Homo sapiens: one gene and its partner. The protein of the gene in region 1 purifies or fractionates together with the protein of each later gene. This does not show direct contact. Each region holds a gene or a part of one and is shown in the gene's direction. Other genes may lie near its edges.

Region 1 (3,746 bases):
TCTTCCATTTTCTTTTCTTTACTTTTTTTTTTTTTGAGGCAGAGTCTTGCTCTGTCGCCCAGGCTGGAGTGCAGTGGCGTGGAGTAGCTGAGATTACAGGTGCGCGCCACAACAGCCGGCTAATTTTTGTATTTTTAGTAGAGATGGGGTTTCACCATGTTGGCCAGGGTGGCCTAATTTTTGTATTTTTAGTAGAGACAGGATTTCACCATGTTGGCCAGGCTGAACTCCTAACTTCAGGTGATCTGCCTGCCTCGTTCTCCCAAAGTGCTGAGATTACAGGCGTGAGCCACTAGGCCCTGCCATAATGCAATTTTTTTTTTTTTTGAGACGGAGTCTCGCTCTGTCGCCCAGTCTGGAGTGCAGTGGCGCGGTCTCAGCTCACTGCAAGCTCTGCCTCCTGGGTTCACGCCGTTCTCCTGCCTCAGCCTCCCGAGTAGCTGGGACTACAGGCGCCCGCCACCACGCCCGGCTATCTTTTTGTATTTTTAGTAGAGATGAGGTTTCACCGTGTTAGCCAGGATGGTCTTGATCTCCTAACCTCATGATCTGCCCGACTCGGCCTCCCAAAGTGCTGGGATTATAGGCGTGAGCCACCGCGCCCAGCCCATAATGAAATTTTTTTAAGAGACAGGATCTTGCTCTCTCGCCCAGGCTGGAATGCAGTGGAGTGATCATAGTTTTATTTATTTATTTATTTATTTATTTATTTATTTATTTATTTATCTGAGACAGTCTTCTTGCTCTGTCACTTGGGCTGGAGCACAGTGGCCCGATCTTGGCTCACTGCAACCTTCGCCTCCCGGGTTCAAGCGATTCTCCTGCCTCAGCCTCCGGAGTAGCTGGGACTACAGGCGCGTGCCACCATGCCCGGCTAATATTTGTATTTTTAGTAGAGACAGGGTTTCACCACGTTGGTCAGGCTTGGTCTCAAACTCCTGACTTCAGGTGATCTACCTGTTTCAGTCTCCCAAAGTGCTGGGATTACAGGCATGAGCCACCGTGCCCGGCCTAATGTAATATTTTAAAAACTAATGCAAAAGAATTTCTGATGAGCAATATATAAAGACTTTAAATAAGCTGGTCATGGTGGCTTGTGCCTATAGTCCTAGCTACTCAGGAGGCTGAAGTAGGAGGTTCACTTGATCCTGGGAGGTCGAGGCTGCAGTGAGCTATGATGGCACCAGCCTGGGTGACAGAGTAGACTCTATGTTAAAAAAAAGAGGCCAGGTGCGGTGGCTGATGCCTGTAATCCCAACACTTTGGGAGGCTGAGGCAGGAGGATTCTGGGGTCAGGAGTTCGAGGCCACACTGGCCAACATGGGGAAACCCCGTCTCTACTGAAAACACAAAAATTAGCTGGGCATGGTGGTGGGCGCCGGTAATCCCAGCTACTCAGGAGGCTGAGGCAGGAGAATCGCTTGATCCCAGGAGGCAGAAGTTGCAGTGAGCTGAGATCGCGCCATTGTACTCCAGCCTGGGCGACAGAGCGCGACTCCATCTCATAAAGAAAAATATTTTAAAACATTTCTAAATGTTGATGTCTGAGTTTTTTTTGGCGTCCCTGTAAATTTTGTTTTCCAGGCGAGAACTTTACTGGCCTCAACCTATTCCGGGTCCCCAAGTGAATGAAACCTAAGTTTGGCCCCGCCCACAGAGCAGCAGGCCACGCCCCTCGACATATCAGCCCCGCCCCCAGGACGCTAGTCGCGCGGTCGCTCTGTGCCTGCAGACCCCCGCCCCGCGCGCTCCTCGCGTCACTTCCGGGGCGGTGGTGAGAACGAGGCTCACTTCCGTCCGTGGGGGGAGCTGCGGCGGTGGCGGTGCAGGAGGCCGGGCAGGGGTGCGGAGGGACCGACGGACGCACGGGCGGGCGGCCGGGAGCCATGGAGCGCGGCCCTGGGGCCCGGGGGCGCGGGCCGGGGTGGTGAGTGCCGGGCAGGGGCGGGGGCGGGCGCGGCCGCGCGGGGTCCCGGGCCGGGCCTCGAGGGCCTGACAGCCCGGTTGGACGTCCCCGAGACCCCTGCAGTCCCAGGGCTTCCGCGGGTCCTGCCCGAGGAGCCCAGAGCAGGGGCGCGGACCGCGGATGAGCGTCTGTGATTGGGAAAGCCCTGTCCCCATCCATTCAGCCCTCCGGCGTGGGTTGCGCTCCCACCCTCCTGCGGACGCGGCCCTTGCCTTCGGGGAGCACCCGTCCGAGCCGCGGATTCCGCTCTTTTGCCCCGAAACTGCCCCCAGTCCGACAAACGCTTCGGCCTCTCGCCCCCCAAGGCAGCTCCCAGGGGCCCTCCCGAGCCCTGCTTCCCAACCAGCTCCCAGTCGCTGTTTCCCTTGTCAGGCTTCTTCCTGCCACCCTGACTCCTGGGCGGGCTTCCCGGCCTCCGCTCGCGTCCGTTCTCCGGGATGCAGCCCTTCTCCTATGTTGTCCATCGCTTGCTCGGGACTTCTTCGCGGCCCCGCCATTTCTCCCAGGATGAAGTGCAAACTCTCGGGGGCGCGACCTCACCCGTCCCAGGCTCTCTCTTAGGACCCTTCTGCTCACTTCTTCCTCCCAGGGTCTGCTCTAGCCAGGAGCCTGCTCTGTCACCTCGGATTTTGCTCCTGCTTGTCCCTCTGTCCCATCCCCCTGTCACCTGGCCCGTTTGTCTGCCCTCTGATATGGCCGCGCCTCCCCCCAGGCGGGTTTCCCACCCTGACTGGTTGAGTGAGGTGCAGTCACCGTCTCCCATATGTAGGTCATCTTCCAGTATTTTGGCTGCTCGGTTGCTTGCTGGTCCTCAGAACACCTCTAGCTTGCAGAGGGTTGCCCAGTTAAGTGCGTGGGAACGGAATTGGTGGGATTCAGGGTGTCAAGGGTGTGTGCCCAGTGAGTGAGGCGTCTGGGTTTGCACTCCCCAGTCCACGCCCATTAGTGACACTAGGGAGGTTCCAGGTACCTGTGGCTGGAGAGGAGAGGAGACTAGACTTTCCCTTCCCTGTCAAAGCTGGCGGACCTTGGGGATTCTTTTCCTCCTGTGCTTCCTCCTTAATTCTGTGCTGCCTACCACCTGCCCATTCCTTTAGTGAGTGGCAGGTCATGGTCCTGCTCTCATAGAGTTTCTGGTTTGGAGGTGGGGGGAGATCTGGCCAAACGTGTGAAAAATACAAGCTGTGGAAAGAGCGTGTAAGGGGTCCTGTCCCAGCTTTGAGGACTCTGAGAGCGTTGGCAGTGAGGTGCAAAGGGTGGTTGGGTTGGGCAAGGCTGTCTAGTGAGGTTGGGGAAGGGAGTTCCTGGCAGAGGAGCAGAGGCAGGAAGGGGCAATTTGGCTTGTCTTGAGGGAGCCAGGAGTGGCAGGGTGTGAGATGAGTGAGTCTGGAGAGGTCGGCCTGAGCCGGAATGCGGACCTGGCAGGCTGTGGGGAGGGCTTTGATCTCTATCCAGGGAATAATGGGAGGCCCCCAGGACACCCCAAGAGGGAAGCGGCTCCATTGCATTTGTGTCGTGAAAGATTGTTTGGCTGCTGGGGGAGAATGTCCTGGAGCAGGTGATCAGCAAGGAGGGAGGCTGTTGCTGTGGCTCTGGTGAAAGGTGATGGAGGCAGGGACCGGGCGGTGGCTGATGGGAGACAGGCAGAGCCACCGGGCTGGTGATGGACCGGCTCAGATCCAGTGGGTGGAAGGAGGTGTCAAGGATAACATCTTTGTTTCTGGCCTGGATAGTGGGGCCCTGGCCACCTCGGTGTGCCCCTTCGTCTCCGGGGTCTCCA
Region 2 (3,746 bases), on another chromosome or scaffold:
TGGCTTTGTCTCTTGGCATGCCTAGTTTGAATCTTAGATATTGCTTAAAAGAATTATAGACCTCCAGATGATATTATTTTCTTCCAGAAAGGACTTAACTCTCTCTTCTGCTGTGCAGGAAGAGTATTGGCCGCTTAGCTTCAGGTACTGAGCTGAATTGAGGTTGGGTTACAGTTTTATCTTTTTAAAAAATTTTCTTTTCTTGTGCCAACTCATCTGAGAGTTGTGGTTTTAAAAAGGCCCTATCTTAAATTCATCCCTTTTTTTTTTCTTTTTTGAGACAGAGTCTCAACTCTGTTGCCCAGGCTGGAGTGCAGTGGTGCGATCTCAGCTCACTGCAACCTCTGGCTCCTGGGCTCAAGTGATCCTCCTGCTTCAGCCTCCCAAGTAGCTGGGACCGTAGGCATGAGCCACCACGCCCAACTAATTTTTGTATGTTTTTGTTGAGATGGGGTTTCACCATGTTGCCCAGGCTGGTCTTGAAGTCCTTGGCTCAAGTGATTCTCCTGCCTTGGCCTCCCCAAGTGCCCAAGTGCTAGGATTATAGGTGTGAGCCACCACACCCAGCCTCACCCTTGTTTCTATTTTTTTTTTTTTTTTTTTTTTGGAGACAGAGTTTCATTCTTGTTGCCCAGGCTGGAGTGCAATGGCATGATCTTGGCTCACCACAACCTCAGCCTCCCGGGTTCAAGTGATTCTCCTGCCTCAGCCTCCTGAGTAACCGGGATTAGAGACGCACGCCACCACGCCCGGCTAATTTCTGTATTTCAGTAGAGATGGGGTTTCACCATGTTGGCCAGGCTGGTCTCAAACTCCTGACCTCAGGTGATCCACCCACTTTGGCCTCCCAAACTGCTGGGATTATGGGCGTGAGCCACTGTGCCTGGCCCCCTTGTTTCTTAATTGTAGCCCTCCAAGTCTTTCAACCAAGAACCTCGAATGTTCATTAGGCCTCTGCAGGCCTCTACCTCCAACAGGTGCTGACTTTCAGATCTTGTCTCCTCAGCATAAAACTTTGCTCTTCATGTCAGAGGCTTTTTCCTTAGTGTACTAGTTTCCTGTTGCTGCCGTAACAAATTATCACAAACTCAGTGCTGAAAATGGCACAAATATATTACTTTACAGTTCTGGAGATCAGAAATCCAAAATGGGTTTCATTGAACTAAAATGAAGATGTCAGCAGGGCTGCATTCCTTCTGGAGGCTCTAAGACTGAATCCATTTCCTCGTCTGTTCCAGTTAGAGGCCCCTGAACTCCTTAGCCCATAAGCCGTTTCCTCCAATTTCAAAGCCAGCAGCACAGCATCTTCAACTCTCTGACTCTGACCCACCTACTCCCTCTTTCTTTTGTAAGGACCCTTGTGATTTAGTCATACTAGTTACTTTATTTTATTTTATTCTATTTTTGAGAAAGAGTCTCACTCTGTTGCCCAGGCTGGAGTGCAGTGGTGCCATCTCGGCTCACTGCAAGCTCCGCCTCCTGGGTTCACGCCATTCTCCTGCCTCAGCCTCCCGAGTAGCTGGGACTACAGGCGCCCGCCACCACACCCGGCTAATTTTTTGTATTTTTAGTAGAGACGGGGTTTCACCACGTTAGCCAGGATGGTCTCGATCTCCTGACCTCGTGATCCGCCTGCCTCAGCCTCCCAAAGTGCTGGGATTACAGGCGCGAGCCACTGTGCCCGGCCTGAATTCAGCATGTCTTGAAAAGAAAACCTACCATGTGATACGCTCAGTTCTACTTTCTCCTTTTTTATGGGATCTTCCCTCCAGAATCTGATTTTACCTCCTTAGCTTTGTTAAGACTGCCGACTCTGCTGGGCACAGTGGCTCACTCCTGTAATCCTACCACTTTCGAAGGCCAAGGCGGGCAGATTGCCTGAGCTCAGGAGTTGGAGACCAACCTGGGCAATATGGTGAAACCCCGTCTCTACCAAAAATACAAAAAATTAGGGCCAAGCACAGTGGCTCATGCCTGTAATCCCAGCACTTTGGGAGGCCGAGGCCGGTGGATCACTTGAGGTCAAGAATTCGAGACCAGCCTGCCCAACATGGTGAAACCCCGTCTCTACTAAAAATACAAAAATTAGCCGGGCGTGGTGGTGGGTGCCTGTAGTCCCAGCTACTTGGGAGGCTGAGGTAGGATAATTGCTTCAACCCGGGAGGTTGTGGTTGCAGTGAGCCAAGATTGTGCCACTGCACTCCAGCCTGGGCAACAGAGTGAAACTCCATCTCAAAAAAAAAAAAGAAAAAAAAAAATTAGCCAGGCATGGTGGTGCATGCCTGTTATCCCAGCTACTCGGGAGGCTGAGACATGAGAAGTGCTTGGCCTGGGGAGGCAGAGGTTGCAGTGAGCTGAGATCGTGCCACTGCACTCCAGCCTGGGTGACAGAGCAAGACTCTGTCTCAAAGTAAAATTAATAAATAAAAAAATTTTAAAAAGTAAAGACTGCCAACTCTCCTACTAGTTAAATTTTCCCTCAGTAATTTGTTCTTTACCTGAGCAAGGCCCAGATTCTCAGCATCTAGCCCTGTGCCCTGAATTGGCAAATCCTCCAGGAAAAAAATCTGCTGCGGAATATCAGCTTACCTCCTAGAGTTCACCTCTTTCTGGAATTTTGGCTCCTCTAGGCCTGTTTGCTTTGGCAGCTCCCTGATTCATTTTATCCAGCTTTTCTTACTGTTCTTGGTGGGAGCATTATTAGCCTGCTACAAACTGTACCATTACACTTTTTCCAAGTCACACCTGTAATCCCAGCACTTTGGGAGGCTGAGGTGGGCCGATTGCTTGAGCTCAGGAGTTTGAGACCAGCCTGGCCCACATGGTGAAACCCTGTCTCTACAAAAAATATAAAAATTAGCCAGGCGTGGTAATGCACGTGTGTAGTCCCAGCTACTCGGAAGGCTGAGGCAGGAGAATCATTGAACCCGGGAGGTGGAGGTTGTAGTGAGCTGAGATTGTGCCACTGCACTCTAGCCTGGTTGACAGAGTGAGACTCCCTCTCAAAAAATAAAAATAAAATATAAATAAATAAAACAATTGGGGTCTCACTATTTTATATTTTTGTCTCAAAAAACAAACAACTCTCTCTTGTGGTGTGTGCTTGATTCTGCTTCTTGTCATGTCTTCTCACAAGTCTTTTAAGAGTAAGCGATTCCTGGCCAAGAAACAAAAGCCAAATCGTCCCATTCTCCAGTGGATCTGGTTGAAAACTGGTAATAAAATCAGGCACAACTGGAAAGGAGACATTGCAGAACAGCCAAGCTGGGTCTATAAGGAACTGCACGTGAGCTGGCACACATATTCACGCTGTATCAAGGTCACGGCCATCTTACTATAGCAAGCTGAAAACGTCACCACTGTCTGAACAGTTGGACGTGTTTTATTGGGAATATATTTTTTCTCTTTGCTTATATGCCCTGCGATAGTAGGCTGGGTTCAGTAATAAATATGTGAGACCTTTTGTTTCAGGAAAAAAAAGAACCAATATAATATAAGGTATATGTGTATGTTTCTCTGTGGGTATGGGTTGTGAACTGCCTGGGTGCAAAGCCAAGCTTTGTTACCTAGTTGTATGACCTTGTACACTTAATTTCTCTAATCCTCATTTGTCACATTCACTAAATGGGTAAAATTATAGTACCTCATAGGATTCAGTGAGTTAATACACGTAAAACACTTAGACTAGTGAATGGCACAAAGTAAGTGCTCAATAAGTGTTTGCATGATAAATCATACACATACGT

Evidence for each region. The genes of interacting proteins can lie anywhere in the genome.
Region 2: the proteins of ABHD17A (region 1) and DYNLT2B purify together in Homo sapiens (affinity purification with mass spectrometry; 3 studies listed by BioGRID and IntAct, with this or other methods). This does not show direct contact.

What each region holds. Positions count from the first base shown.
Region 1 is NC_000019.10:1,883,533-1,887,278, reverse strand, and holds the start of ABHD17A (alpha/beta hydrolase domain-containing protein 17A), read left to right. Parts: upstream 1-1,782; 5' UTR 1,783-1,927; intron 1,928-3,746. UniProt on the Homo sapiens protein: Hydrolyzes fatty acids from S-acylated cysteine residues in proteins. Has depalmitoylating activity towards NRAS. Has depalmitoylating activity towards DLG4/PSD95. May have depalmitoylating activity towards MAP6.
Region 2 is NC_000003.12:196,297,591-196,301,336, reverse strand, and holds part of DYNLT2B (dynein light chain Tctex-type protein 2B), read left to right. Parts: intron 1-3,746. UniProt on the Homo sapiens protein: Acts as one of several non-catalytic accessory components of the cytoplasmic dynein 2 complex (dynein-2 complex), a motor protein complex that drives the movement of cargos along microtubules within cilia and flagella in concert with the intraflagellar transport (IFT) system.